4 linked regions of the Homo sapiens genome follow. The protein of the gene in region 3 purifies or fractionates together with the protein of the main gene of each other region. This does not show direct contact. Each region holds a gene or a part of one and is shown on either strand. Other genes may lie near its edges.

Region 1 (7,593 bases), on a different chromosome or scaffold from region 3:
CCCAAAGTGCCAGGATTACAGGCATGAGCCACCGCGCCTGGCCGCGTTTGTGTTTTAGGCTAAGTGTTATTTGGAAAGAGTGAAAATGTTAAAAATAAGAAGTTTATAAAGTAAAAGAGTTATAGTAAGCTAAGGTTAATTTATTATTGAAGAAAAAAAATTTAAATAAAATGAATGTTGCTTATGTATACAGTGTTTATAAAGTCTACAGTGGTAAACAATAATGCCCTAGGCCTTCACATTCATTCACCACCCACTTGCTGACAAACTCAGGGCAACTTCCAGTCCTGCAAGCTCTATTTATGCATGGTATGTGCCTTATATGGGTGTACTTTTGCTTGTCTTTTTTTTTTTTTTTTTTTTTTTTTTTTTTTTTTTTTTTGAGATAGGATCCCCAGGCTGGAGTGCAGTGGCACAACCTCAGCTCACTGCAACCTCCTTCTCCCGGGTTCAAGCAATTCTCCTACCTCAGCCTCCCAAGTAGCTGGGATTACAGGCGTCCACCACCACGCCCAGCTAATTTTTTGTATTTTTAGTAGAGACAGGGTTTCACCATGTTGGCCAGGCTGGTTTTCAACTCCTGACCTCAGGTGATCCACCCGCCTCAGCTTCCCAAAGTGCTAGGATTACAGGTGTGAGCCACCAAGCCCAGCCTTTTGTCTTTTATACTGTATTTTTACCGTACTTTTTCTGTGTTTAGATATGTTTAGATACATGAATACTAAACATTGTGTTACAATTGGCTACAGTATTCAGTACAATAATATGCTGTATAGGTTCGTAGTCTAGGAGCAATAAGCTATACTACACAGCCTAGGTGTGTACTGGTTGTACCATTCAGGATTGTGTAAGTACCTCTATGATGTTTGCCCAATGAGGAAATTGCCCAAAGGTGCATTTCTCACAATGTATTCTCCTTGTTAAGCAATGCATAACTGTATATGGGAAGATGTAAATAGGTTATATGTAAATACTATGCCATTTTATATAAAGGACTTGAGCATCAGTGAATTTTGGCATCCACAGGGAGTCCTGGTACCAATTCCCCACAGAGAGTGAGTGACCACTGTACATTATTCTCCCTACAATCACTTTCATCTCTTTTTCCTTTTTTACTGTACTTCCTCATTTAGGTGGAGGGGACTCCTCCCAGAACCTGTCAGCTCATTTCCCACTGAACACTTCTCACCTTTCCATATTTGTTCAACTTTAGAGTATTTAACTGCTGCTGACACTCTAAATAACTATTATCCAGCTTTGCCCATGGTGTCCTAGGTGTGGCTCTCACTCAGGGTTTCATAGAAATGAAGATAGGGTGAATGACTTAACCAAACTCTTGAATGTAAGGGAACGTGTGAATGGCTTTACTCTGTATGAAAGTATTTTCTCACAGAGAGAAACAGAAAATGTATTTGCAAGTTCCCATTTATTAGGAAAAAAGGCAATCACTCACCTTCTTTTCCTTATTAAGTATCTCAACAGCTAATTTGGCTGCGGCATTTTTTGCTTCCTTCTTTGATCTACCTTCACCTTCTGGAAATTCTCTTCCATCTATTATAACTTGAAATGTAAACCTGATTACAAAGAGAATATTCATAAAATATTATACAACTCATGCACTATCTAAAAACAAGTACTCTAGTCATCACTACCTCCTATGACTACCTTTGAGGGTTTGAACCTACATTCAATATAGCATTTAAGCAGTCACCTCAAACAGTAAAGCAGCATGTCTTGTTGAAGCATGGAAAGGTTTCTACCCTCTTTTCTCTCTGGAGTCAACTGTGGCTCCACCATGGTTCCCACTTTATGCCAAGAGCACTCTCACAAAACTAAAGTGTTGACCTCAAAGTTGTGCCAGAGTTGCCATTCCCCCAGCTTACATTTATAAGGTCATATCTTTTTTCTTTTTTTTTTAATTTTATTATTATTATACTTTAAGTTTTAGGGTACATGTGCACAACGTGCAGGTTACATATGTATACATGTGCCATGTTGGTGTGCTGCACCCATTAACTCGTCATTTAGCATTAGGTATATCTCCTAATGCTATCCCTCCCCCCTCCCCCCACCCCACAACAGTCCCTGGTGTGTGATGTTCCCCTTCCTGTGTCCATGTGTTCTCATTGCTCAGTTCTCACCTATGAGTGAGAACATGCGGTGTTTGGTTTTTTTGTCCTTGCGATAGTTTGCTGAGAATAATGGTTTCCAGCTTCATCCATGTCCCTACAAAGGACATGAACTCATCATTTTTTATGGCTGCCATATCATTTTTTATAGCAACCTACCTCCTATCATGTGGAGGTCCTGAATTAGGCAGTTCTTGATATTTAAGTACTACTCCCTGCTTCTGACGGTATGTATTAAGTTCCTCCATGAAGAAACCTGCTGAAAGATCACCAGCCATTTCTTCTTCCCGTATCCTACAATGGAAGAGACATTTGAATGAGTGATGCTCACAGAACATATTTAATCTGAGTTTCCCAATGCAGTTTAGGAGACAGAGGGGTTGGGGAGACTCCCCTTTATAGGACTCATCTCAGTCTCACATAAATGCAGAGACTTTCTTTCAAAACCGTTCTTTCTTTCTCATTCACTGCACAATAAAGTTAATTTCTCCAAAATTTTCTACTTTAAAAACTCAACTTGGCCAGGTGTGGTGGCTCACGCCTATAATCCCAGCCAAGGTGGGCGGATCACCTGAGCTCAGGAGTTCGAGACCAGCCTGGGCAACATGGCGAAACCCCATCTCAATTTTGAAATTGTTTTAAAAAATAAAGGAAAGAAAAAAAACTCAACTGGTCAGTGAAAGGGGGTCCTTCTCTTTAACTCTGCTCTGTGCTTCCACTGAGTATCAACTACATGTTTGCCTACCTGCTTAAAAAAGTAAAAAGGCTGCAGGATTGTAGAATGTTTTATGTTGAGAAGAAAAAGATTTAGAGTATATATAATAAGTGAAGTGGAGTGGTAGCATGGGGACAGGCTGGGAAATGAACGGGCAGGCAAGTGTGCCTGTGTGGACGTGGATCCTGCCGGAAGCCAGGCGGAGGAGAGCTCAAGCTAAGGGTGATCAGCCCGTGACCTAGATCTCTAGACAAAATAAAACAAGGAAAATATGCTAGAATCAACAATGATGGATCGATAGTTGCAGTCCAGCTTCGTACTACAAATGAGTGCCATAAAACCTACTATACTTGTCACACAGGTTTTAAGATGTTGCAAGAATTGTCATCAAATGACATGCTTTTACTTCAACTTAGAACTGGAAGGACACTTTCTAGGAACAATACAATTTGCTTTCATCACATAAAAATTTATATTGACAGATTTGAGGATTTACAGAAGTCGTGTTGTGACCCATTTAACATACACAAAAAACTAGCCCCCCAGAATTTGCATGTAATTGACTTAGATGATGCCACTTTTCTGAGTGCAAAATTCGGAAGACCGCTTGTACCTGGTTGGAAGCTTTGTCCAAAATGCACGCAGATAATCACGGAAGTGTGGATGTTGATTCTGAAGACCGCCAGAGAAGCAAACCTGAGTCAGATGGAAGAACTGCTAAAGTTTTGAGGTCATTACAATTTACAAATCCAGGAAGGCAAACTGAATTTGCTCCAGAAACTGGTAAAAGAGAAAAAAGAAGGCTTAAAAAAATGCAACCGCTGGTTCAGACAGACGAGTGATACCAGCGAAGACTAAGGTCTATGATAGCCAGGGTCTCCTGATTTTTATTGGGATGGACCTCGATGCCTCGATGAAGATTGTTTAGGATGTTTCTATGCTTGTCGTGCCTGTGGTTCTACCAAGTGTGGAGCTGAATGCCACTGTGACCGCAAGTCACAAAGTATGAGCAAACTGAAATTGAAGGAGGAGAAATAATTCATTATAAACATGCTGGATAATCTGTGGTATCAAACTATGGGGCCTTTAAAGGTCTTTATTTCTAAAATTCGGTTACTCTAAGATACATTTTAAGCTTGATTGTCAAATGACAAAGATTTTAAAAGCACCTCAATGTGCACGAATTTTTCATCTTGGGTGCTTTAAGATTCACTATTTGATATAAATTCAGATAGCCTATTTCTCAGTAGTCAGCATTAAGCCTGCCTGGACCAATATAAACATGTAGGGTGTAGGCAGGTCCTCAATGTGCACGGTTCCCATGGCACAAATTTCAGTGACCTAGATTTAGTTTAAATACCAGTTTCCTTACCAGGAAGGAAAGGAAACTGGTAAGGAAACTGGTGTTGTTTAAACCTAGGTTAAAATTTTAGGTAGCACAGTATAACTCTGAGTAATTACAGGAAGTACAAACTTCTCTGCTAGTTCTTCAGTCTACAAATCACGATGTAAATAACAGATATGCTTCATGATCAGTGACCAGTCGTGTTACTTGTTTCAAATTCTTCCAGTGGTTGGTCCCTGTGCATCTGTTAATCAGTTCACTCACAGCAGAGCACGTAGTTACACTGTCTCTTTGTCCTCCACCTGACATTTTATAGAAGTGAACAATCGAAAGAACTGGCCAACAAAGATGAAAGTCCAACAAAGCAACGAAAAATGATAACACTGGAAGTGAAATTTGAATCAAACATAAATGGATTTGTAGAAGAAGTCACTGATCATGGGAATGTTCTTCCTGCTGTGCATTCATAGGAGCTTAGTGAAGGCAAACTTATCAACACAAATAAGAAAAGTGATTGCAATAAAGATAAATATGTCCCAGAGGAAGTGACGGTAAAAAAAAAAAAAAAACAAACTTCACACTAAAGAGCATTTAATGTGAATACAGAAATACTTCACAACATTGAAAGCACAAGCAATAAAAGGCTGGAAGCTCACCCAAACTTAAAAGGAGTATGACAGTTTGCCATGAATAGAAAAGATGCTTACTCAGTATCATAAGTCACTTGGCAGAAAAAAAAGGCAATCCCTATTCAAACTACTTAGTTTTCACAATGAAATAAAACACTTTAATTCTATTTTTAATGTTTTAAATTACAGTGTACTAAATATTTTTAAATTTTTTTTGCATTTTTTTCTACATTTATAACTGACCTTAAGAGTTTTAATATTTTAGCAGAATTTTAAAGGTCATGGAACAATCATCATTTTCCCCATTGATTATTAAGATTGCTTTGCATGGCCATTTTTATGGTCCCACAGTACCATGCAAAATGAGGACCGCTTGTAGCCGGGAACAACACAATGCTTGCTTCAGGGAAAACTGATTTACACAGAAGTGACTAGTTGAGTGGTAAACTATTTTGGAAATAATCTACATATCTAAGTGCTGAAATATATTTCTCTTCTCCCCACGTATTCTTCAAATAAAAAAGTTTTAATACTTTAAAAAAGTGAAGTGTATGAAATCATGAAGGATTTAACTGTATGGATATAGATTTCTCTATGAAATCCCAAAAATCTCCCCTCTGAATTTTGCAGAAATCAATTTTAGGACAATTTAACCACTGAGTAAATTAAGACCTCTGTTTATAGGTCTCACTGGACCAAGTCTATAGCAATGATTTAAATTATAAACAAAATTTAGAGGATATAAAATATAAATGTACAAGCGAAAACTATAAAACTCTTAGAAGAAAATATGGGGGAGATCTTCATGACTTTGGATTTGGTGATAAAATTTTAGCTATGACAGCAAGAGCACAAGCAACAAAAGAAAACAGAGATAAATTGGGCTTCATCAAAATTTAAAACGTTTGTGTATCAAAGGACACTATGAAGAAAATAAAATGACAATCTACAGAATAGAATATTTACAAATCATATATCTGATGAGGGTCTAGTAACCAGATATATAAAGAATTCTTACAGCTCAACAACAAAAAGACAAACCACCCAATTAAAAAAATAGGCAAAGGGGCTTGAACAGACATCTCTCCAAAGAAAATATGTAAATCGCCAATAAGCACATGAAAAGATACTCAACATCATGAGTCATTAAAGAAATGGAATTCAAAACCACAACTAAATACAATTTCACACCCACTAGTATGGCAATAATAATAATAATCAGGAAATAATAAAAAATAAGTGTTGGTGAGGACATGGAGAAACTGGACCCCTCAAACACTGCTGATAAGAATGTAAAACAATACGGTTGCTGGGGTTCCTCTAGAAGGTAAACTTTGAATTATCATAAAACTCAGCAATTCCATTCCTAGATATTTCAAAGAATTGGAAAACAGGTTTCCAAACAAAGACTTAGACAGGAATGTACATAGCAGCACTGTTAACAATAGCCAAAAGGTGGAAACAAACCAAGTGTCCATCAACGGATAAATGGTGAACAAAATGTGAAATATATCTACACAGCGGAATATTATTCAGTCACAAAAAAAATGAAGTACTGATACATGCTACAACATGGATAGGCCAGGCGCCGTGGCTCATGCCTGTACTCCCAACACTCTGGGAGGCCGAGGCGGGCGGATCACGAGGTCAGGAGATCGAGACCACGGTGAAACCTCGTCTCCACTAAAAATACAAAAAATTAGCCGGGCGCGGTGGCGCGCGCCTGTAGTCCCAGCTACTCGCGAGGCTGAGGCAGGAGAATGGCGTGAACCCGGCAGGCGGAGCTTGCAGTGAGCTGAGATCGCGCCACTGCACTCCAGCCTGCGCGACAGAGCGAAGACTCCATCTCAAAAAACAACAACCACAACAACAAAAACATGGATAAACCTCAAAAACATTATGCAAAATGAAAAATCCAGACATAAAATTTCACACATATTGTATGATTCCCATTTATATGAAACTTCCAGAATCGGTAAATCCATAAAGGCAGAAATCAGATCCTGTAAACCTCTTAATTCTTCTTGGAAAGCTCTTTTGATCTTCTTTCTTCCAGGGCCACTCTTTCTGTTTTTTGTTTTTGAGACAGGGCCTCACTCTGTTGCCCAGGCTGGAGTGCAGTAACATGATCTCAGCTCACTGCAGCATCTGCCTCCCAGGTTCAAGCAATTTTCCTGCCACAGCCTCTCAAGTAGCTGGGACTATGGGACTACAGGTGCCCACCACCACGCCCAGCTAATTTTTGTATTTTTGAGGTTTCCCGGTGTTGGCCAGGCTGGTCTCCAACTCCTGAACTCCAGTGATCCACCAGCCTCAGCCTCCCAAAGTGCTGGGATTACAGGTGTGGGCCACCACGCCTGGCCGGGCCACTCTTTTTAACACACCTTAATCTTTGTAGCTCTAAATGCTGGCATGGCCCAACAATCCTCTTCTCTTCACTCTATACTTTCTCCTTAAGGTGATTTCTTTCACGTCCATGATTTCAGTGATCATCTATACGCCATTACCTCTAAAGTTTACATATTCCTTATGAACCGCTCTGAGTTTCAGATCTCTCTATCCAAATTCTCCACTTGAACATCTTGAACGAACTTTAAACTCAAAATATCCTGTACTGCATGTATGATCTTCTCCCAAGCTGGTTTGAAGTTTCCTTTCACAGGAAATGAGTCCACCATCTATCCAAGTCTGAAAGCCATCAATCTGGGAGGCATCCTTGACATTTCCTCTCCCTGCCTTCTAATCTATAACTAAGTCCTGTCACCAAAATCTTTC
Region 2 (7,593 bases), about 68 Mb from region 3:
CGTGCTGGAGCTCACACACCAGTACTGGCACCAGCGGCCGTAATCACGATACAGTGCAGAAAGCTGGAGGATTCAGAACCCATTTGCCCATTATGATAATTGGCAAATTCAACCCTAACGTAAACCATTTTTTGCCTACAACTGTGACAAATAAGTCTTTTTTGGTGCAATGTAGGGTGTGTGTGGAGACATTTCTACATTTACTGCTTTTTCTGACTATAAAAATCATACAGACTCATTTGTAGAAAATTTGAAAAAAATACAGGCTAGTTTAAAAAAGAAAACACAAATCACCCATAATATCTTCACTCATAATAATTTGCTTTTTTCTGGTCTTTTTTTAACCGTATATACACATATATTTTCTTTTCTTTTCTTTTCTTTTCTTTTTTTTTTTTTGAGACGGAGTCTCGCTCTGTCGCCTGCCCAGGCTGGAGTGCAGTGGTGCAATCTCGGTTCACTGCAACCTCTGCCTCCCCGATTCAAGTGATTCTCCTGCCTCAGCCTCCTGAGTAGCTGGGATTACAGGTGCATGCCACCACACCTAGCTAATTTTTTGTATTTTTAGCAGAGACGGGGTTTCACTATGTTGGCCAGGCTGGTCTCAAACTCCTGACCTCAGGTGATCCACCCACCTCGGTCTTCCAAATTGTTGGGATTACAGGCATGAGCCACCGCGCCCGGCCAACATGTATTTTCTTATTCCCCTTTTTTAAAAAGAAGGATCATATTTGTGTATAAAAGGTTATATCCTGATGTTTTTCAATTCAACATTATATCATGAGCATCTCTCCATGTCATTAGGCATTTGAAAGTTGGTTGCAAAATATCTCATCATATAGCTACATAACTGACATGATTTACTAGTCCTCTTTTCTAGGGCATTTAGATTCTTTCCAATTTTCCCCTATTATAAGTAGTATACAAGTTAAGATTTCTTAATATAAATCTATGTCCACTTCCCTAGTTCTTTAAGATAGACTTCTATAAATATGAAAACTAGACCAAAGGGAATGGACATTATAAAAGCCTTTTTTATACTGTGCCAAATTACTTTCCAGAAGAGTGGTATAAATTTTCAATCCTACCAGTGATATAAAGACTGTCCATCTTATGACACCCTCACCAGCACTCACAGTAGTATGTTAAGAATTTTGCCAATGCAGTCTTTATTCCAAGGCTTAACTTACTGCGGATGGAATGCTAGGTAAAGTGGAGCTTAGCTAACCCAAGACCCTCAGCCACCATGGTCAAGGATAGGATCTGGAGAAGCTGCTTGCTAGTCAGCTCCCAGCCACTGAATGCTTAAAAGAAGTCCATTTGCTGGCATGTCCCTGTCTTCCCACACTTAGAACAAAGCTTATCTTTGAATTTTCATGACTATCTGCTTTAAGAGGGAAGGTCACCCAGACTCAGGCTCTCAGCCTACCCCAACACCAGGCCTCAGTCCAGCTCTGCATCCCTAGTCATAATGCCTGCACCCACAGACCCAGCCTCCATGCTGGCCCCTGCAGATACAGACTCCGGGCCCACCCAGCATCAGGCCAGCAACTATGGCCCCAGAATCCAGTCCCACCCTAGGTTCCAGACAAAACCAGAGCCAGGTCTGCCCACATAGCCCAGTGCCAAATTGGCACCCCAATGGCACCCAAATTGGAGCCTGCAGACACAGGCTCCAGGCCTGCCCAGTGCCAGGCTAGTCTCTATGACCACCCCCACCTTCAGGTTGGCCCCTGCATTCCCACAATCCAGCAGACCCTGGGTCTAGCCCAACCCAGTAGACCCCAGCATTGGGCCGGCCCTCAGAACCCCAGGACTGCCCCTATGGACCTAGGTTCTAGGCTGAGGCCTGTGGCCCCAGGACCCAAGCCAGCCCTAATGAACCTAGCCTTCAGACACATCCATCAGACTCAGCCTCCAGGCCCATTTCAGTGGACCCGGGCACCAGGTTCATCCTAGCACCTGGCCAATCTCTGAAGACCCAGGCTCAAGGCCCAGTCCAGCCCCAGGTCAGCCCTTGTGGACCTAGGCTTTGGGATAGCCTCTCTGCACAAGATACAAGCACCAGGTCCATGCCTGAGGATCCAATCAACAGGTACACCCCAGTGGATCCAGGCTTCAACCCCAACCCCACGGACTCAACACCAGGCCACCCTGCCTAAGGACTCTACCAGCAAGTCTACCTGCAGATCACACCAAATGGCCTACCCAGAATCTCTGGGCAGGCTGACTGGTGAATGGCTTTTCCGGACAAAGCCAGAATGCAAAAACCATTCACCAGCAAAAGTCCCTGCTTCTTCAAATGCACAGATACCAATGCATAGCCATGAGGATCAAGAACAATCAAGGAAACATGTTGCCACCAATGAACAAAATAAAGCACCAGGAACAGACTCTAAAGAAATGAAGATACGGCCGGGCGTGATGGCTCACGCTTGTAATCTCACACACTTTAGGAGGCCAAGACAAATGGATCACCTGAGGTTAGGAGTTCAAAACCAACCTGGCCAACATGGTAAAATCCTATCTCTACTAAAAATACAAAAAATTAGCCGGGCGTGGTGGCAGGCGCCTGTAATTCCAGCTACTCAGGAGGCTGAGGCAGAAGAATCGCTTGAACCCAGGAGGCAGAGGTTCCAGTGAGCCAAGATCAAGCCATTGCACTCCAGCCTGGGCAACAAGAACAAAACTCCATCTCAAAAAAAAAAAAAGAAAGAAAGAAAGAAAAAGAAGACACATGAACTGCCTGACAAAGAATTCAAGATAACTGTTTTAAGGAAACTCAGCGAACTTCAAGAAAATACAGAGAAACAATTAAAGGAAACCAGGAAAACAATAAATAACTAAAACAAAAAATTTACGAGAGATTGAAATTATATTAAAAAAATCAAACAGAAATTCTACAGCTGAAAAATACGAGAATTGAAATGAAAAATGCAATAGAGAGTATCAACAGCAGAACTGATTGAGCAAAAGAATGAACCTTTGAATCTAAAGACAGATTATTTGACAATATACAGTTGGATGAGAAAAAAAGAATGAAAAGAAAGCAAGCTTATGGGATTTATGGGAACTGGAGTTCAAGAAGGAGGAGACGGACACAAAGGGATAGAAAGCTTAAAGAAATAATAGCAGAAAACTATACAAATCTGGGGAAAGTTATAAATATCTGGGTACAAGAAGGTCAAAAGTCTCCAATCAGACTGAACTCAAGTAAGACTATATCAAGAAGTATTATAATCAAACTATCAAAAATCAAAGACAGAGAGGATGCTGGAAGCAGCAAAAGAAAAAAAGTACATCACATTATAAGGGAGTTCTAACAGATTTATCAGCAGAAACCTTAAAGGCCAGAAAAGAGTGGGATAATATATTCAAAATGCTTACGGAAAACAAAAACAAAAACAAAAAAAAAAAAGGTCAACCAAGAATATTGTAGTTGGCAAAGCTCTCCTTCAGAAATGAGGAAAAAACAAAGACTCTGCCAGACAAAAGCTGAAGGAGCTTATCCCCACAAGATCTATCTTATAAAAAATGCTCAAGGGTGTTCTTCAAGTAGAGAGCAAGGGACACTATTCAGTAACACAAATATACATATATATATATATGAAAGTATAGGCTAGGTGCGGTGGCTAACGCCTGTAATCCCAGCACTTTGGGAGGCTGTGACAGGTGGATCACCTGAGGTCAGGAGTTCGAGACCAGCCTGACCAACATGGTGAAACTCCACCTCTACTAAAAATACAAAATTAGCTCGGCATGGTGGTGCATGCCTGTAATCCCAGCTACTTGGGAGGCTGAAATGAAAACTATAAAACATTGATGAAAGAAATTGAAGAAGACACAAATAAAATGAAAAGATGTCCCGTTTATGGATTGGAAGAATTGATACTGCTATAATGTCCATACTATACAAAGCAATCTACAGATTTAATACAATCCCTATCAAAATTTCAATGACAATTTTCACAGAAATAGAAGAAACAATTCTAAAATTCATATGGAACCACAAAAGACCCCAAATGGCCAAAGCAATTGTGAACAAAAAGAACAAAGCCAGAGGCATCACAGTACCTGATTCCCAAATCTACTACAAAGCTATAGTAATCAAAACAGTATGTTACTGGCATAAAAACAGACACACAGACTGATGGAACAGAATAAAAGCCCAGAAATAAATCCACATATTTATGGTCAATTTTTTTAAACAAAGATGCCAAAAAATAAAACACACACACACACAGGTCAAAGGACAAACACAAAAAGGTCAAAGGACAATCTCTTCAATAAATGGTGTGGGGAAACTAGATATCCACATGCAAAACAGTGAAATTAGACCCTCATCTCACACCTCACATTTACAAAAATCAACTCAAAATGCACTGAAGACTTAAACATAAGACCTGAAGCTGTAAAACTACTAGAAGAAAACCTAGGGAAAAAGCTCCATGACATTGGTCTGGACAATGATATTTTTGGATATGACACCAAAAGCCCATGCAACAAAAGTGAAAATAGACAAATGGGATTACTGAAAGTTTCTGTACAGCAAAGGAAACAACAGTAAAGAGACAATCTATGTAATGGGAGAAAATATTTGCAAACCATATATTTGATAATGGGTTAATATGCAAAATATATAAGGAACTCAACTCCACAGCAAAAGAAAACCCAATTTAAAAATGGGCAAAGGATATAAATAGACACTTCTCAAGAGAAGACAGAAAAATAGTCAACAGGCATATGAGAAAGTGCTCAACATCATTAAACATTCAAGAAATGAAAATTTAAACCACAATATCACCACATCTGTTAGAATGGCTATTATCAAAAAGACAAAAGGCAATAATAAGTGTCAGCAAGGATGTAGAGAAAAGGGAACCCTTATATACTATTGCTGGGAATGTAAACTAGTACAGTCACTATGGAAAACAGTATACTGGCTCCTCAACAAATTAAAAATAGAACTATCATATGATCCAGTAATCCCACTACTGGATATATATCCAAAAGATAAGAAATCAGTATGTCAAAAAGATATCTGCACTCCCATGTTCACTGCAGCATTATTCACAATAGCCACACTATAGCATCAATCTGAACATCCATGAATGGATGAATAAAGAAAATGTGGCACATATACACAACAGAATAGTACTTAGCATTTTTTTGTTTTTGGAGACGAGGTCTCACACTGTCACCCAGGCTGGAGTGCAGTGGCACAATCTCAGCTCACTGCAGTCTCCACCTCTTGGACTCATCTCAGCCTCCCACCTCAGCCTCCCAAGTTGCTGGGACTAGACACATGCCACCATGCCTAGCAAATTTTTGTATTTTGTGGAGACAGGGTTTCACCGTGTTGCCCAGGCTGGTCTTGAACTCCTAGGCTCAAGCAATCCACCTGCCTCGGCCTCCCAAAGTGTTGGGATTACAGGCGTGAGCCACCATACCTGGCCTACTGAGCTTTCAAAAAGGAAATCCTGTTATTTATGACAACCTAGATGAACTTGGAGGACATTATGTTAACTGAAATAAGCCAGGCACAGAAAGACAGATACAGCGTGATTTCACTTACATATGGAGTGTAAAAAGGTCAAGCTCATTAAGAAAATAAAATGGTGGTTATCAGAAGCTAGGGGGATCAGGGAAATGCTAGTCAAAGGACATAAAATTTCAGCTGGATAGGAGGAATAAATAAGTTCAAGAGATCTATTATACATTATACAGACTATAGTTAATAACAGTATGTTGTATATTTGAAAATTGCTAACAGAGTACATTTTAAGTGTTCTCACCACAAAAATCCTTAAGTATGTGAGGTAATGTGTATGTTAAATAGCTTGATTTAGCCATTTCACAGTGTATACATATATCAAAACATCAATATATATAATTTTATGTATTAATTAAAATAAATAATTTTCTTTTTAAAAGAGGAAGAGGCCCACTGAGGAAAATCAAATAATAACTCATAAAACTGCTGAGGTAGCCTATGTAAGCCATCATTACTGGTTACTCAAAAACATCATTAAGGCTGGGCACGGTCGCTCACGCCTGTAATCCCAGCACTTTGGGAGGCCGAGGCGGGCAGATCACGAGGTCAGGAGATCAAGACCATCCTGGCTAACACGGTGAAACCCCATCTCTACTAAAAATTAAAAAAAATTAGCCAGGCGTGGTGGCAGGCGCCTGTAGTCCCAGCTACTTGGGAGGCTGAGGCAGGAGAATGACGTGAACCTGGGAAGTGGAGCTTGTAGTGAGCCAAGACCCTGCCACTGCACTCAAGCCTGGGCATGACAGAGCAAGGTTCCATCTCAAAAAAAAAAAAAAAAAAAGACCATCATTAAAAATATAAGCAAGCAACAAAAATTCACTGCTCCTATGAGGAAACCAGCAGTTCAAAATGAGGGAACAAAACTAACCAAAACAAACAATGCCAATAGTCTCTAATAAAATAGTTAGTGCAGGAGATAAAGGCGTTAACATCAACCAATTTATGATTGATATTCCTAATAATATTCAAGAAGATACTGCATTGATAAAACCTAGCCAGGCTTCAATTTAAAAAGGTAGCAAACAAGAAATAAAAAGGAGCTATTGAATAGAAAGCCATAATTGTAAAAAAAAAAAAAAAAAAAAAAAAAAAATTAATGCTCAGGCAAGAAAACAGCAGATTGGGCTGGGCGCAGTGGCTCACGCCTGTAATCCTAACAGTTTGGGAGGCTTAGGCAGTTGGATCACCTGAGGTCAAGAGTTCGAGACCAGCCTGACCAACATGGCAAAACCCTGTCTCTACTAAAAATACAAAAAAAATTAGCCAGGAGTGATGGCGGGCACCTGTAGTCCCAGCTACTTAGGAGGCTGAAGCATGAGAATCACTTGAACCCAGGCAGCGAAGGTTGCAGTGAGCTGAGATCACACCATTGCACTCTAGCCTGGGAGACGGAGTGAGACTCCATCTCAAAAAAAAAAAAGAAAAAATAGCAGATTGAAATGGACATGGCTGAAAACCAAATTAGTATATTAAAAGTCCAAGTTGAGGAATTCTCCCAGCACAAAGATAAAATGATAAAGAAATGGAAATTATGAGGAAAAAAGATAAGCTACATGGCAAACTATCAACAATATCCAATCTCAGAATTACTGGAATTCTAGAATGAGAGAACAAAATAAGGTAAATGGGAACAATAATCAAAGAGATTATAAAAGAAAATACCCTTTAGCTGAAGAAAGCCTTGAGTCTTCAGATGGGAAGGACTCGCTAAATGCTTGGCAAAAATACTATGAAAAATCCACACATTCGTACACGCTCAGACACATGCAGATTATCCAACCAAATTCAGATTTTTAAAAGCTGGAGGCATCATGCTACCTGACTTCAAACTATACTACAAGGCTACAGTAACCAAAACAGCATGGTACTGGTACCAAAATAGAGATATAGACCAATGGAACAGAACAGAGGCCTCAGAAATAACACCACACATCTACAACTATCTGATCTTTGACAAACCTGACAAAAACAAGAAACGGGGAAAGCATTCCCTATTTAATAAATGGTGCTGGGAAAACTGGCTAGCCATATGAAGAAAG
Region 3 (7,593 bases):
GGGTTGTACCCAAAGAGTTGTTAAACACATTTGGGATGAATTTCTATTCAGAGTCAATATTTTCTAGTTCAATTCCATGCCATAATAGAAAACACAAAGATGATTCTCTGACTTCCTAGTAACACTCAACTTCTAGTGCTGGGCTCGTGATCCTGAGTCTACTAGGGAGGCTGAATGAGGAATTGGTTAGGGACACAATCACTGAAGGGAGTACAAGTTATTATATTCAAAGCTCCCCCATCTTTCACACCGAGCAAATGTCCCCAAAATAAGCAAAAACACATACACAGTCAATTCTTGATATCTTACTAATTATTAAATAAGGAGGGGAGGAATAAAACATTTTAACAAATTTTTAAAAGTCAAATCAAATTGATTTTCTATTTGCAAATAAAGCAAAGATATTATAGATCAGAAAACAGAATGTATGAATGAAAAAAATGACATTTTACAAATATTTATTTTGGCCAGGAATGTTGGCTCACACCTGTAATTCCAACACTTTGGGAGGCCTTGGCCGGGTAGACGGCTTGACCCCAGGAGTTCAAGACCAGCTTAGGTAACACGGCAAAACTCCATCTCTACAAAAAATACAAAAATTAGCGAGGTATGGTGGCATGTGCCTGTAGTTCCAGCTACTTGGGAGGCTCAGCGGGGAGGATTGCTTGAGCCTGGGAGGTCGGGGCTGCAGTGAGCCATGGCTGCGCCACTGCACCCCAGCTTAGGCAACAGAGTGAGACCCTATTTCAAAAAAAAATAATAATAATAAAAAATATAAATATCTATAAGGACACATGCCAAAAAAGACAATATTCAAATACTACGTATGATACCAAGTATCTCAGTATCAAGATTTAATCTTTAACTGCTGAATTAAGGTTTGAGCATAAAAGAATAATCTTACTCTAGCATCAAAATAATAAAATATTTGGCTCCGGCCAAATTCAGTAGTCATGAATGTTTACTGATGAAATCTTTTTTTTTTTGTCTGTTTAAAGACAGGGTCTCACCACCATGTTGCCCAGGCTGGCTCTGAATTCCTAGGCTCAAGCAATCCTTCAGCCTTGGACTCCTGAGTAGCTGGGACTACAGACACGTGCCACTGTGCCTTGCTACTGATGAGATCTTCAATGCCAAACTAATAAAGCCAAAACTCTTAAACATTTAGATACAGATATCAGAAAATCCAGGGGTTTTTGTTTGTTTGTTTTTGAGACACAGTCTCACTCTGTCACCAAGGCTGAAGTGCAGTGGCACAATCTTGGCTCACTGCAACCTCGGCCTCCTTGGTTCAAGCGATTCTCCTGTTTCAGCCTCCTGAGCAGCTGGGATTACACGTGTGCACCGCCATGCCCAGCAAAATTTTTTTTGTTTTGTTTTGTTTGGTATTTTTAGTAGAGAAGGGGTTTCCCCGTTGGCCAGGCTGGTCTCAAACTCCTGACCGCAAATGATCTGCCCGCCTCAGCCTCCCAAAGTGCTGGGATTACAGGTGTGAGCTACCATATCCAGCCCAGAAATCCAGTTTTTAATAACAACATCTCCTAGACGTATAGAAAGAACATTTTCTCACATTTGCGTTCATTTATTCAAGATTGAAGAATCATTTAGAAATTAAAAAAGCAAACCTGGCTCATCTTTCTGTTCTATTCTCTAACTAAAGAATGTAAGAATGAACTATCCTTTAAATTTCTCACAATCTGGTTAGAATTATCTAATTAAGAGACCATATTTATTACTAAAATAAAAATGCAAAAATGCATATGGCAAATGTATTTAAAATAATTTGGGATATTTTTACTTCATGTCAAGAACATAAAAGTAGTTTGCCTTTTAAACATATGAAACCTTTTATTTTGGTTGATCATTATTACCCTTTTAACAAATCAAGGCAAAAATATTCCTCAAATATTTGTGATTAAACTGTTGAACCGGAATTGGCTCACCTCCCAATGACTTCACAAGTATCTGCTTCAATTAATTTTGAGAAATAAAATAACCCAATCATTCTTTAGTTTTCTGATGCCTCTGCAAAATGTATCTGAAAAAAATATCAAAATAAATTGCTGCATAACAACATATAGTGTACCTTTGAATCAAGTTTATGTCTATCCCAATATCTGAGGTGTTACATTAGTTACACTGAAACAAGTCTGCTTCATTTCAATCAAATTTGCCTTATTTGTGCCTTTTATAAATCACAGCAAGAGAATCACAGAGGGTTAAAAATCTTAGAACTCAGGAATTACCTGGCCTAATCTCCTTATTAGGAACTGGGGCCCAAAGAGGGGAAGTGACTTGGCCAAGCTCACACAGTTAACAGTAGGTCCTGATATGAAATTACATATTATTGATGAAAATGTTTTTCCACATTACCTGGATAATTTGTTTACCATTATATCTACCACATAAAAATTAAAAGTTGGTTCTAATAGTACATACAAAAACATGAAAACAAGAGCTCCATTCCGAGATGAAAATTTTACTCATAAAAAAGCTCTAAAGAGCTCCAAATAAAAACACCAACTTTACCTTAAATAAACATATACTTTTATAATCATCTAAAATTTTCCTGAAGACTAAATAATATTTAAAAGTGGTTACCTCAGCCGGGTGTGGAGGCTCATACATGTAATCCCAGCACTTTGGGAGGCCGAGGTGGGCGGGTCACTTGAGGTCAGGAGATTGAGACTAGCCTGGCCAACATGGAGAAATCCCACCTCTACTAAAAGTACAAAAATTAGCTGGGCGTGGTGGCACAATGCCTGTAATCTCAGCTACTTGGGAGGCTGAGGAGAGAGAATCGCTTGAGCCCAGGAGGTGGGGGAGGTGGCAGAAGTTGCAGTGAGCTAAGATAGCGCCACTGCACTCCAGCCTGGGTGACAGAGCAAGACTGTCTTTAAAAAAAAAAAAAAAAAAAGTAGTTACCTTGGGTGAGTAGAAATGGGGCACCAGGAACCGAAGAGTTTTGTTTTGTTTTGTTTTGTTTTAATCATTTTGAGTTTTTTTTCCAGACAAGCGCTCACTCTGTCGCCCAGAGTGGAGTGTAGTGGCATGAACACAACTCTCTGCAGCCCCGACGTCATGGGCTCAAGTATCCTCCCATCTCAGCTTCCCAAGTAGCTGGGACTACAGGCATACGTCACCACACCTCGCTAGTTTTTTTGGTATTTTCTGTAGCGACGGCATCTGGCCATGTTGCCCAGGCTGGTCTCAAACTCCTGAGCTCAAGTGGTCTTCCTGCCTCGGCCTCCCAAAGTGCTGGGATTATAGGCCCCCGGCAAAATCAGGATTTTAAGAACAAAACAGATACTTTTCAGCTCCAAATCTGTCTTCATCTTAAAGTGGCAGGATATAGGAATACCTTCCAACATTGGTAAATACTTACATTTCCAACCAGACACAGTGAGAGAGAGAAATCAAGTCAAACAGAGAGACACCAAGCTCTTCTATTACTCACAGTTCTACAGATCATAGAGGTCTCAAAATGTTTGGCACATAATCGATAATGTTTATTTAGCTGATCAGGTGTTTTATCTTCTAAGTCTGCTCTCCTACAGTTCTCCACCCACTTCTGGCATCTATAAATAAAACCAAAATACAATTATGAAAATGAGCTCAGCATTTAAATTTCAGCCTTCAGTTTTAAGGCAAACATACATTAATAACAACGGATTCCTGCTCCCCTCCCTGAGAACATAATTTGGAGAATTTGATTAATAACAAAATAACAGTTGGAAAAAACCTTAGAAGTCATTTAGTACCAACATTTCAATTACAGACAAGGTTAAGAAGTAACTTGTTTGGAGGGAAGTACAAAATCATCAGCAGAACTAGAACTGAAACCTGCATCTTCCAACTCCCAAAACATCAGAGAAGATTCAACCATCAGCAGAACAAGCAGAAAGCTGCATGCACAGCCACAAGGCTCACAGCTTAACATTCCCTTCAGGATTTCAACTTCAACAAGCATACAAAACAACACTGTCACTGTAGAAAATCAGCAATTAGGCCGGGCGTGTTGTCACGCCTGTAATCCCAGCACTTTGGGAGGCCAAGGCAGGCAGATCAGGAGGTCAGGAGATCGAGACCATCCTGGCTAACCCGGTGAAACCCCGTCTCTACTAAAAATACAAAAAATTAGCTGGGCGAAGCGGCGAGCGCCTGTAGTCCCAGCTACTCGGGAGGCTGAGGCAGGAGAATGGCGTGAACCCGGGAGGCGGAGCTTGCAGTGAGCCGAGATTGCGCCACTGCACTCCAGCCTGGGTGACAGAGCCAGACTCCGTCTCGGAAAAAAAAAAAAAAATCAGCAACTAGATGTTCTTTAAATAACTAGTTTCTAAGGGAAGCATAAAGGCTGTATTCGTTTATCTTCCTATGAACACAAATTATTATCTACAGTAATACGTGCTGACTAGATTGCAAGCTCCATGAATGCAGGGACTGTGACTACACAATCTAGTACACAAAAAGTGTTGAAGACAGAGAACAAGACAAAGTCCATGCCCTCTCGGTGCTTAAATATTTTCAGAAAAGCTAATAATAAGCACTTATTATGAGCCAGACACGTTCTAAGTCCTTTCCAAAGATGGGTACTATTAATATCCCCCTTGTGCAGATGAAGGCACAGAAATATTAAGTAACTTGCTAAAGTCACAACTAGATCTTTCCTCAAATTTCTTTTCTTTTCTTTTTTTTTTTTGAGACAGAGTTTTGCTCTTGTTGCCCAGGTTGGAGTGCAATGCCATGATCTTGGCTCACTGCAACCTCTGCTTCCCGGGTTCAAGCGATTCTCCTGTCTCAGCCTCCCAAGTAGCTAGGATTACAGGCATGCGTTACCACGCCTGGCTAATTTTGTATTTTTAGTAGAGACTGGGTTTCTCCATGTTGGTCAGGCTGGTCTCGAACTCCCGACCTCAGGTGATCTGCCCGCCTCGGCCTCCCAAAGTGCTGGGATTACAGGCGTGAGCCACCGCGCCCGGCCCATTCCTCAAATTTCTAAGAATAAAAGTTCTGCCGTGGATAAACAGTATCACAAATTATTTTTTTGAGATGGTGTCTTGCTCTTTAGCCCAGGGTGGAGTGCAGTGGTGTGATCTCAGCTCACTGCAACCTCTGCCTCCCAGGTTCAAGCAATTCTCCTGCCTCAGCCACCCAAGGAGCTGAGATTATAGGCGTGCACCACGACACTCAGCTAAGTTTTGTATTTATAGTACAGATGGGGTTTCAGCACGTTGGCTAGCTTGGTCTCGAACTCCAGATCGCAGGTGATCTGCCCACCTTGGCCTCCCAAAGTGCTAGGATTACAGGCGCGAGCCACTGCGCCCGGCCCAACATATTCCTTTATAATTAAATCACAGTATTTTTTTTTTATGTTTTAACACTATTGTCCACCTCCCCCCAACATACATGCCCCTGACACTTAATTCTCTCTACTCTAAAAATGTCAAATCAAGGTAAAATGCTATGATTTTTAAAAAACTACACCTAAATTGTACAGCATTTCATTTGACCAACAAGTATTACTGCTCACAGTAACGATGCCTAAGATGTTCACAATTTAATCACACTTTTACACAGTTGTACATTATGATTATAAACATTTCATGTTTCAAAATCCAAATATTAAGTATAAAAACGATCTCACTATAAAATAATTTGCCATACTGCTACAGTTGTTTGTTTTTTAAATTCTTAAATCTCTGGAGACCTTCCACACAGAGCAATACTGTACATATTACCTCCGAACTAAGTTGAAACAGCTTTCTGATATCAACAGCAACTCTTATTCAGACAATCAAGAACAGAATGGGCATCAGGCAGAGAGCCTAATCAAATACACCTGACTTTCTATATGAACTACTTAAGAATAAATCTAGTGAAAGAAGTGCAAGACCTCTAATAATCTTTTTAAAGCAAACTTAAATAAATACACAAGTTTATGAACTGGCACACTAAATTCCAAAGATGTCAATTCTCCCCAAACCCATTTACTAATTCAATATAATCACAAGCCCAGTAAGTTTGTGAGAGAGAGCAAGAGAAAGAAATGACAAATTATTCTAAAACTTTTTATACACAACATTAAAGAACCAGGGATAACCAAGATAATCTTGAGAGAGAGAGAGGAAAAAGGAGGTTGAAAGAATTACACTACCAGATATTAAGACTTACTGTAAAGCTTATTAAGACAAGTACTGGCAGAAGGACAGAACAGTGAAACAAAATAGAGCACTGCAGATACTTAAAGGTAGCTCTGAACAGCAGCAAATATGGATTTTTCTTTTCCAATAAATAGGGCCGAGTCAGCTGAATATCTACATGAAAAAAATAAATCTTAACTCCTACTTGTACACCATACACAAAAATAAGTTCCAAGTGATTGGAGATCTAAATATGAAAGGTAAAACAATAAAGCCACTAAAAGATAACACAGGAGATTATCTTCATGACCTTGGAATAAAGATCTCTTAAGGCAACAGCACAAATGCTAGAGGAAAAGATATATAAATTAGGCTACTTTAAAGTTAATAACTTTTCTTCATTAAAAGAAGCCATTTAAGAGTGAAATGGCAGACCACAAAATGTCAGATATTTGCAATACATATATCTAACAATGGACTCACATTCAAAATATATATGAAGAACTCCTACAAATAAATAACCCAACATAAAAATAGGCAAGGGGCCTTGAACAGGCACTTTATAATAAAAAGGTTATAAAAATGGCAATACATAGATGAAAAAAAAATGCTCGATCTCATTTGCCATCAGGGAAATGCTAATTAAAGCCAAAACAAATTACTACATACCCACAAGAATGACTACAATGTAAAAGAGGTAATACCAAATATTGGGGAGAAGGTGAAGTAACTTTGCCCATCAACAGCAGGATGGATAAATTGTGGTATATTCATTCAATGGAATACTACTTGGCTATGAAATGAACAAACTATCTACAATCTCACAAACGTAATGTTAAGCAGAAGAAGCCAGGAGTACATACTACATGATTCCTTTGATATGAAATTCTAGAACAGGCAAAACTCATTCATAGTGATTGTTCAGAAAAAGAGTTAACACAGCAGACCTCAGGCTGCTGTCCTTAGAAAGGCCTGTTTGTTAAGGACCTTGGGCTGGTATCCGGGAACTTGGTTGGTAAACAGTTCCATACACAGAAATAAAATTTTTCCTAACTGATAATGCAGCTCAATGTGCCTAGACTGCTTGTGCAAACAAGCACACCTGCTGAACACCTGCCATCCCTTCTGGGAATTTGGAATTTTATTATATGCCAGGCAGAGGCTGCCTATGTGATCAGGACCCAGTAAAAACCTCGGACACTACGTCTCTAACGGTCTTCTCTCCACAGAAACACGGCACGTGTTGCCACATTTCCACCACTGGGGAAAAACGGGCTCTGGGTGACCCCCTCATGGGAAAGACGGAGCATAGGGAAGCCTATACATGGATTCCTTCAGACTGTGCCTGTCTTTTTCCCTCATGATCCAGATGTGTATCCTTACTACAATGCAATAAATCTTCACTGTGAGTACAACCATATACTGAGTCCTGCAAGCCCTTCTAGTGAATCTT
Region 4 (7,593 bases), on a different chromosome or scaffold from region 3:
TAAAAATGCAAACAAAGTTTTATGCACATAATACCCATCACAGGGTTACTTATAACAGCAAGAATTAGGAGACCAAAAAAAAGGTAGACAATATAAGAGGAATGGTTGGGTAAGTCATAATATTGCCATACAATGGATTTTATGAAGCCATTAATAAGGAAGATTTTAATGTAATAGAAAATACATGAGATAAATTAAGTAAAAAAAGCGTGACACAAAATTGCACGTAAAACCTCACCCATCTTAAAAGGATGCTTAATGATACTTTTCACTTTATGCTTTCATAATATCTAAATGATCTACAATTAACCTACATTTATTCTCTAATGAGTCAAAAAGGCTTTTTTTTTTTTTTTTTTTTTTTTTGAGACAGAGTCTTGCTCTGTCATCCAGGCTGGAGTGCAGTGGTGCGATCTCGGCTCACTGCAAGCTCAGCCTCCCGGGTTCACGCCATTCTCCTACTTCAACCTCCCAAGTAGCTGGGACTACAGGCGCAGGCCAACAGGCCCGGCTAATTTTTTTTGTATTTTTTTTTTAGTAGAGATAGGGTTTCACCATGTTAGCCAGGATGGTCTCGATCTCCTGACCTCGTGATCCGCCCGCCTCGGCCTCCCAAAGTGCTGGGATTACAGGTGTGAGCCACCACGCCTGGCCTAAAAAGTTGTTTTTTTTTTTTCTTTTTTTTTTTTTTTTTTGAGATGGAGTCTCACTCTGTTGCCCAGGCTGGAGTGCAATGGTGCAATCTCGGCTCCCGGGTTCTAGCGATTCTCCTGCCTCAGCCTCCTAAGTAGCTGGGATTACAGCAAGTGCCACCATACCCAGCTAATTTTTGTCTTTTTAGTACAGACGGGGTTTCACCATGCTGGCCAGGCTGGTCTCAAACTCCTGACCTCAAGTGATCCGCCCACCTCAGCTTCCCAAAAGTGCTGGGATTACAGGTGTGAGCCACCGCACCTGGTCCAAAAAGTTCTTGAATTTGTTATGCTTGATAGGCTAAATAGACAAGCCTTAAAGGCTGCCAAATGATTTCCTCATATATAATTCTAAACATTTTAATTAGAAAAAATTAGTTTAAAAAATTATAATAAAGGGCACTGTTCAGAAAAGTAGGAACTCTTGGTGGGTGCGGTGGCTCACGCCTGTAATCCCAGCACTTTGGGAGGATGAGGTGGGCGGATCACCTGAGGTCAGGAGTTTGAGAACAGCCTGGCCAACAAGGTGAAACTGTGTCTCTACTAAAAATACAAAAATTAGCGGGGTGTGGTGGCAGGCGCCTGTAATCCCAGCTACTTGGGAGGCTGAGGCAGGAGAACTGCTTGAACCCGGGAGGCAGAGGTTGCAGTGAGCTGAGATCATGCCACTGCACTGCACTGCAGCCTGGGAGACAGATTGAGACCCCATCTCAAAAAAAAAAAGAAAAAAGAAAAAAAAAAATAGGAGCTCTTAAACACCGCAGGTGGAAACGTAAATATTAATTTACCGAGTAATGGAATAGCTAGCAAAAGCATTAAAATGTGTATATGCTTTGACTCCCAAAGTCTACTTGCAGGAATCTGCCCTAAGGCAAAAAGAAATGTATACAAAAATTCATATAAAGGATATTCAACAGTATTATACATGCATAAAATAGTACAAAAATAAAGATAACCTAAATGCCTTGCAACATGGTTCTGATTATGTCCATTAAATAACATATGTATGTTGGAGTACTATGTAGCCATTAGAAACCAGGTTGTAGGAGAATACTTAATGACAAAGGAAAAGGATCAGGCTGTTAGGGTGAAACAAGCAAATTATAAAATAACTTATAGTATGATTCCAAGTTTGGAAAAAAAAAAGGAGTCAGGAGAGGCATAAGAAAAGGGAGAGACTGTGCAGGAGATAGGTTTTTTTTTTTTTTTTTTTGATGGAGTCTTGCTCCATCACCAGGCTGGAGTGCAGTGGCCCGATCTAGGCTCATTGCAACCTCCACTTCCTGGGTTCAAGCAATTCTCCTGCCTCAGCCTCCTGAGTAGCTGGGACTACAGGCGTGCGCCATCATGCCCAGCTAATTTTTGTATTTTTAGTAGAGACAGGGTTTCACCATGTTGGCCAGGATGGTCTCAATCTCTTGACCTTGTGATCTGCCAGCCTTGGCCTCCCAAAGTGTTGGGATTATAGGCGTGAGCCACCACAACTGGCCGGTGGGTTTTTTAATTAAAAAAAAAAAAAAGAAAAGAAGAGAGACAGAGTGCGTGCGTGCACATGCCCATACCTGTATGTGAAAAAAAGTAAAACTAAAAAACCCAAAATGCAAAGAGTTACATCTTTGGATTATTTTGGTCCTTCTCCATATAAAAAAATTATAATAGGCCAGGTGTGGTGGCTCACGCCTGTAATCCCAGCACTTTGTGAGGTAGATCACTTTGAGGTCAGGAGTTCAAAACCAGGCTGGCCAACGTGGTGAAACCCCGTTTCTACAAAAAATACAAAAATTAGCCGGGGGTGGTGGTGCACACCTGTAATCCCAGCTACTTGGGAGGCTGAGGCAGCAGAATCGCTTGTACCTGGGAGGTGAGCCACGATTGTGCCACTGCATTCCAGCCTGGGCAACAGACAGAGACTCCATCTCAAAAAAAATTTCCGGCCGGGCGTGGTGGCTCACGCCTGTAATCCCAGCACTTTGGGAGGCCGAGGCGGGTGGATCATGAGGTCAGGAGATCGAGACCATCCTGGGTAACACAGTGAAACCCCGTCTCTACTAAAAATACAAAAAATTAGCCGGGAGCGGTGGCGGGCTCCTGTAGTCCCAGCTACTTGAGAGGCTGAGGCAGGAGAATGGCGTGAACCCAGGAGGCGGAGCTTGCAGTGAGCCGAGATTGCGCCACTGCACTCCAGCCTGGGCGACAGAGCCAGACGCTGTCTCAAAAAAAAAAAAAAAAAAAAAAAAAAAAATTTCCAATTATAAATATGTGCTACTTTGAAAATTAAGAGTGGGTCTTTAATTTTAACTATACATAAAGAGAGTTATTCAAACACGCTTTTAAACAAAACTTGTTTTAACCTCTTCTTAGATAATCCTAAAATTAATCCAGAACCAAATGTCTTCCTTTTCTTAACATAGACTCTAATGCTTTGTACATGCCAGTGCAAATGGGATGCTATTTCTGAGGCTGGCAGAAGGGCTTAAAAACAAAAAGGTGGCCGGGCATGGTGGCTCACACCTGTAATCCCAGCACTTTGGGAGGCCGAGGCAGGTGGATCATGAGGTCAGGAGATCAAGACCATCCTGCCTAACACGGTGAAACCCTGTCTCTACTAAAAATACAAAAAATTAGCCGGGCGTGGTGGCACGCGCCTGTAGTCCCAGCTACTTGGGAGGCTGAGGCAGGAGAATTGCTTGAACCCAAAAGGCGGAAGTTGCAGTGAGCTGAGATTGTACCACTGCACTCCAGCCTGGGCGACAGAGCAAGACTCCATCTCAAAAAAAACAAAAAACAAAAAACAAAAAAACAACAAATAGGTGGTAGGGTTCCTAAAGGCAAAGTGTTTGCTTTTTCTTTTGTCACTCATTAGTTATAGCATTATCATAAAAATGATAAAGCACTTCTCTGCCACTTGGTGGTGGGTGAAGATAATCCCTCTCATGATTAAGAATACGGTAACGATGAATGACAGAGCCTTGGGAGAAGCCTTGGGAGAATTAAAAACTAAAAACTTTAAAAAAAAAAAAAAGAAAAAAATACTGTAACAGCTCATCTAACCAGAAACCAGCAACCTGGAACATTAAACTAACTATATACTTCCTAATCTGTCAAGAATTCAGGAGTCAAAAGAGAAAAATCCCTGTGTAGGTGCTGGGGTTGGCAGTAATTCTTCTCAGTATCTAAGGCTTAATAATGCCCTCCAGTGAGCAGTGACATACACAACAACGACCTGCCTCACTCGAAGAGTCTTGAACTCCACATTAAAAAAATTATGGTGCATTAAACAAGGGCGAAAACAAAAATTTTCTGGTAATAATTAGATAGCATGACTAAACAGACCACAACATCCCCTGAAAATTCAGGCTATTCATGATTTCACTGTTCCATGAAACGCAGGTTCTGAAGTTTAAATCCAAGTTTCCCTTGAGAGTTTTAATTCATGACTTGAACTAAAAAATAAAACTATAAATTTCAATGATCTGGGGGTTTATCCTTCTAGCTACTAGACAGGCAAAATAATCTTAATATGTGGTAAGTTTTACTCATTAACTAAAATATGGAAAAGCTAAGATATAAAGATCTGACTAAAACCACAAGATTTTATGACAAAAGGGCAACTAGTGTACTCAAAATTCTTTCACACTTTACATGAAATGGCTTATTATAAAAAATAAAATCTATATACAATCAAAGCCAACAAAAGTTACCACAGAGCTGAAAGGGTATAAACAAGTGCTGCTAATATTGTTGCTTCCTTGACGTGCATCTAGGATTCCTGCCCCTCCCTTCCCTACAGTAACTCTTTTTGTTTTTTTTTTTTTTTGAGACGAAGTTTTGCTCTTGTTGCCCAGGCTGGAGTGCAATGGCAGGATCTCGGCTCACCGCAACCTATGCCTCTGAGGTTCAAGTGATTCTCTTGCCTCAGCCTCCCGAGTAGCCAGGATTACAGGCATGTGCCACGACGCCCGGCTAACTTTGTATTTTTAGTAGAGACAGGGGTTTCTCCATGTTGGTCAGGCTGGTCTTGAACTTATGACCTTGGGTGATCTGCCTGCCTTGGCCTCTCAAAGTGCCGGGGTTACAGGTGTGAGCCACCGTGCCAGGCCCTTGCAGTGACTCTTGAAGTTTATGGGGCGGGTAGAAAAGTAGGAGACCTTAATGGGAAATGGAATGGTCTATATGATCCTGGGAGATCTTCGTTGTATTTGTGGTCCCAAACCATCTTTCAAAAAGTTCTCTAGAACAGTGGCAATCTACATTAGCGATGCCTGGTGTAATAAAACGGTAGGCAATGAACTCTTGCTTACACACCTCTTCTCCAAACCCTCTCAGGGTCCATAGAATCCTTTCCTGAACACTAAATCTCCTTTGAAGAACTCATTTGTTTCCTTATTTGGTCATCTTCCTATTACACAAGATTTTTTTTTTTTTTTTTTTTTTTTGAGACAGAGTCTTGCTCTGTTGCCTAGGTTGGAGTGCAGTGATGCAATCTCTGCTCACTGCAACCTCCACCTCCCAGGTTCAAGCAATTCTCCTGCCTTAGCCTCTAGAGGAGCTGGGATTACAGGTGCCCACCACCACACCCAGCTAATCTTTGTATTTTTAGTAGAGATGGGGTTTCACCATGTTGGCCAGGCTGGTCTCAAACCCCTGACTTCAAGTGATCCACCTACCTCGGCCTCCCAAGGTGATGGGATTACAGGTGTGAGCCACCGTGACCGGTCTAGACAAGCATTTTATGCCTTAATTCTAAACTTAACTTACAACCCTTCAGCCTAACATATCTACTGATACATCTCACTTCTACAAATCTGAACTCCAGCAATTCTTCAAAGACCTATCTAAAGCATCCAAAATCTGTTTCTGAGTTTCAATTACTTTTTTTTTTGAGACAGAGTCTCGCTGTCGCCCAGGCTGGAGTGCAGTGGCACGATCTCGGCTCACTGCAAGCTCCACCTCCCAGGTTCACGCCATTCTCCTGCCTCAGCCTCTCGAGTAGCTGGGACTACAGGTGCCTGCCACCATGCCCGGCTACTTTTTTTTAATTTTTATTTTCATTTTTAGTAGAGACGGGGTTTCACCATCTTAACCAGGATGGTCTCGATCTCCTGACCTCGTCATCTGCCCGCCTCGGCCTCCCAAAGTGCTGGGATTACAGGCCACCGCGCCCGGCCTCTGAGTTTCAATTACTAATCACAATCTAGATATGTTCAAACATGCTTCCCAGTAGGGAGATCCACTGCCCTTCTGCTAGGGGACTATAAGCTTACATACGTAGCTAAGTTATGCTTTTTCTTTTGTACTCACTCCTTCCTTTCAGACTCTCCAGCGTTTTTGCCATACAGGCAATTTTTGCTTGAAATACATCTTTACCATTGGTCTTCTTCCCAGAAGTCGTTTTCCTCTGTAATGATTCCTCAATGATGCCAGGAGGTCATATTGTGTGCTGTTTGGTGACTGTCATACCTGTCTTTGAAACTCTAAAATGACTTCATTTCAACCTTGACTTTCAATGACATTTCATGCATATCATGGTTTGGCAGCATAACTGTAAGAATGAACAGTTCCTTAAAAAAACCACCCAGGTATTTAGGGTCCTGAAAGGCTCTTTCCTCTTATCGCTCCATCTTCCTTTTGGGTTGCTCACTTCTTCCTTCCAGAGCCTTTGAATTCCTACTCATTGATTTCGAATTTTTAGTGTAAAATCTAATAGTCGTTGTTTCTGGTTTATGTTGTTAAATTTCTAGATTCTTCATAAGGCTTGATCCATGCTAGATTGTTTATTATTTTTCATAATTGCTTCTTACTGGACCATGTCTTCAACACCAATTATGACATTAAAAAAATATTTTTTCCCTATTCATCAAAAAGCAAAAAAAGTCAGCATTGTACTTATTTTATTAGAGATGGGGGTCTTGCTGTTACCCAGACTGGAGTGCAGTGTCACAATCATAGCTCACTGTAGCCTTGAAATCCTAGGCTGAAGTGATCCTCCTGCCTCATCCTCTGAAGTAGCTAGGACTATAGGCGAGTGTCACCACGCGTGGCTAATTAAAAAAATTTTTTTCTTAGAGATGGGGTCAGGCTGGTCTCAAACTCCTGGCCTGAAGTAATCTTCACACTTCAGCTGGGATTGCAGGCACAAGTCACCATGCCTGAGCCCCAACTACGACATATACTATTCCCAGAAACCTAAATTTCTTCACTTCAAGCTCTAATCTATTCTTCAAAGCCATTTCAACACATCTTTTCAAGCAAATCATTCCAAGTTTTACTAGAGTTTAAAGCGAAAGCAAACATTTCTTAATTCAAAGTGCACATGTCATAATGCTTAATTTATTCAAGAGCAGAACTGTTTTCTGCCTCCTCCCCCAATTCATTTAGCACAGTGGTGGACATTTTGTTGATGGGTTATCAATACATTTGGTTGATGAATCAGTTTCCCATTAACAGTCTTGTCATTTCCTGCACACTATCACCTGAGTAACATTAGAAAAGACCTCACCAAACACGCTTTATGTTATCAAACACCAACAAGCAAAGATGTTTCCTCATCCCTCTGATTATAGCTGCCACTTACTGCCTAAGCCAAATGCTTTACATTTATTATCTCTAATCTTCCTTTTCCACATGAATGAACAACCAGGTTCAGAGAAGTAACTTGCCCATACGTAGTAAGTGGTGGAACCAGGATTTGACTTAGGCCTGGCTGGCTTCAAAATCCACACTTTGTCCACAAAAGTTAGTTATGCTGTCAATTTAGCTGGGCTCTGAAAAAAACTGGAGTTTCAACTTTCACATATATGGTATGTATACAATAACGTCTACCCGCCACTTCAATATATCCTTAAGAACTGAACGTTTTACTGTAGAAAAGGAGTAGTTTTTAAAGCCTTTTACTGTAAAA

Evidence for each region.
Region 1: the proteins of THAP12 (region 3) and EIF2AK2 purify together in Homo sapiens (affinity purification with western blotting, with the first as the bait; one study listed by BioGRID). This does not show direct contact.
Region 2: the proteins of THAP12 (region 3) and RIC3 purify together in Homo sapiens (co-immunoprecipitation; one large-scale study listed by IntAct). This does not show direct contact.
Region 4: the proteins of THAP12 (region 3) and SRSF4 purify together in Homo sapiens (affinity purification with mass spectrometry; one large-scale study listed by BioGRID and IntAct). This does not show direct contact.

The regions. Positions count from the first base shown.
Region 1 is NC_000002.12:37,145,400-37,152,992, forward strand, and holds part of EIF2AK2 (interferon-induced, double-stranded RNA-activated protein kinase), read right to left. Parts: intron 3,906-7,593; exon of another isoform or gene 3,625-3,905; 5' UTR 3,458-3,624; exon of another isoform or gene 3,095-3,457; intron 3,007-3,094; exon of another isoform or gene 2,973-3,006; intron 2,424-2,972; 5' UTR 2,408-2,423; coding exon 2,289-2,407; intron 1,575-2,288; coding exon 1,454-1,574; intron 1-1,453.
Region 2 is NC_000011.10:8,111,909-8,119,501, forward strand, and holds part of RIC3 (protein RIC-3 isoform a precursor), read right to left. Parts: intron 1-7,593. UniProt on the Homo sapiens protein: Molecular chaperone which facilitates proper subunit assembly and surface trafficking of alpha-7 (CHRNA7) and alpha-8 (CHRNA8) nicotinic acetylcholine receptors.
Region 3 is NC_000011.10:76,362,395-76,369,987, forward strand, and holds part of THAP12 (52 kDa repressor of the inhibitor of the protein kinase), read right to left. Parts: intron 3,579-7,593; coding exon 3,458-3,578; intron 2,039-3,457; exon of another isoform or gene 1,944-2,038; intron 1-1,943. UniProt on the Homo sapiens protein: Upstream regulator of interferon-induced serine/threonine protein kinase R (PKR). May block the PKR-inhibitory function of DNAJC3, resulting in restoration of kinase activity and suppression of cell growth.
Region 4 is NC_000001.11:29,172,790-29,180,382, forward strand, and holds part of SRSF4 (serine/arginine-rich splicing factor 4), read right to left. Parts: intron 2,930-7,593; exon of another isoform or gene 1-2,929. UniProt on the Homo sapiens protein: Plays a role in alternative splice site selection during pre-mRNA splicing. Represses the splicing of MAPT/Tau exon 10.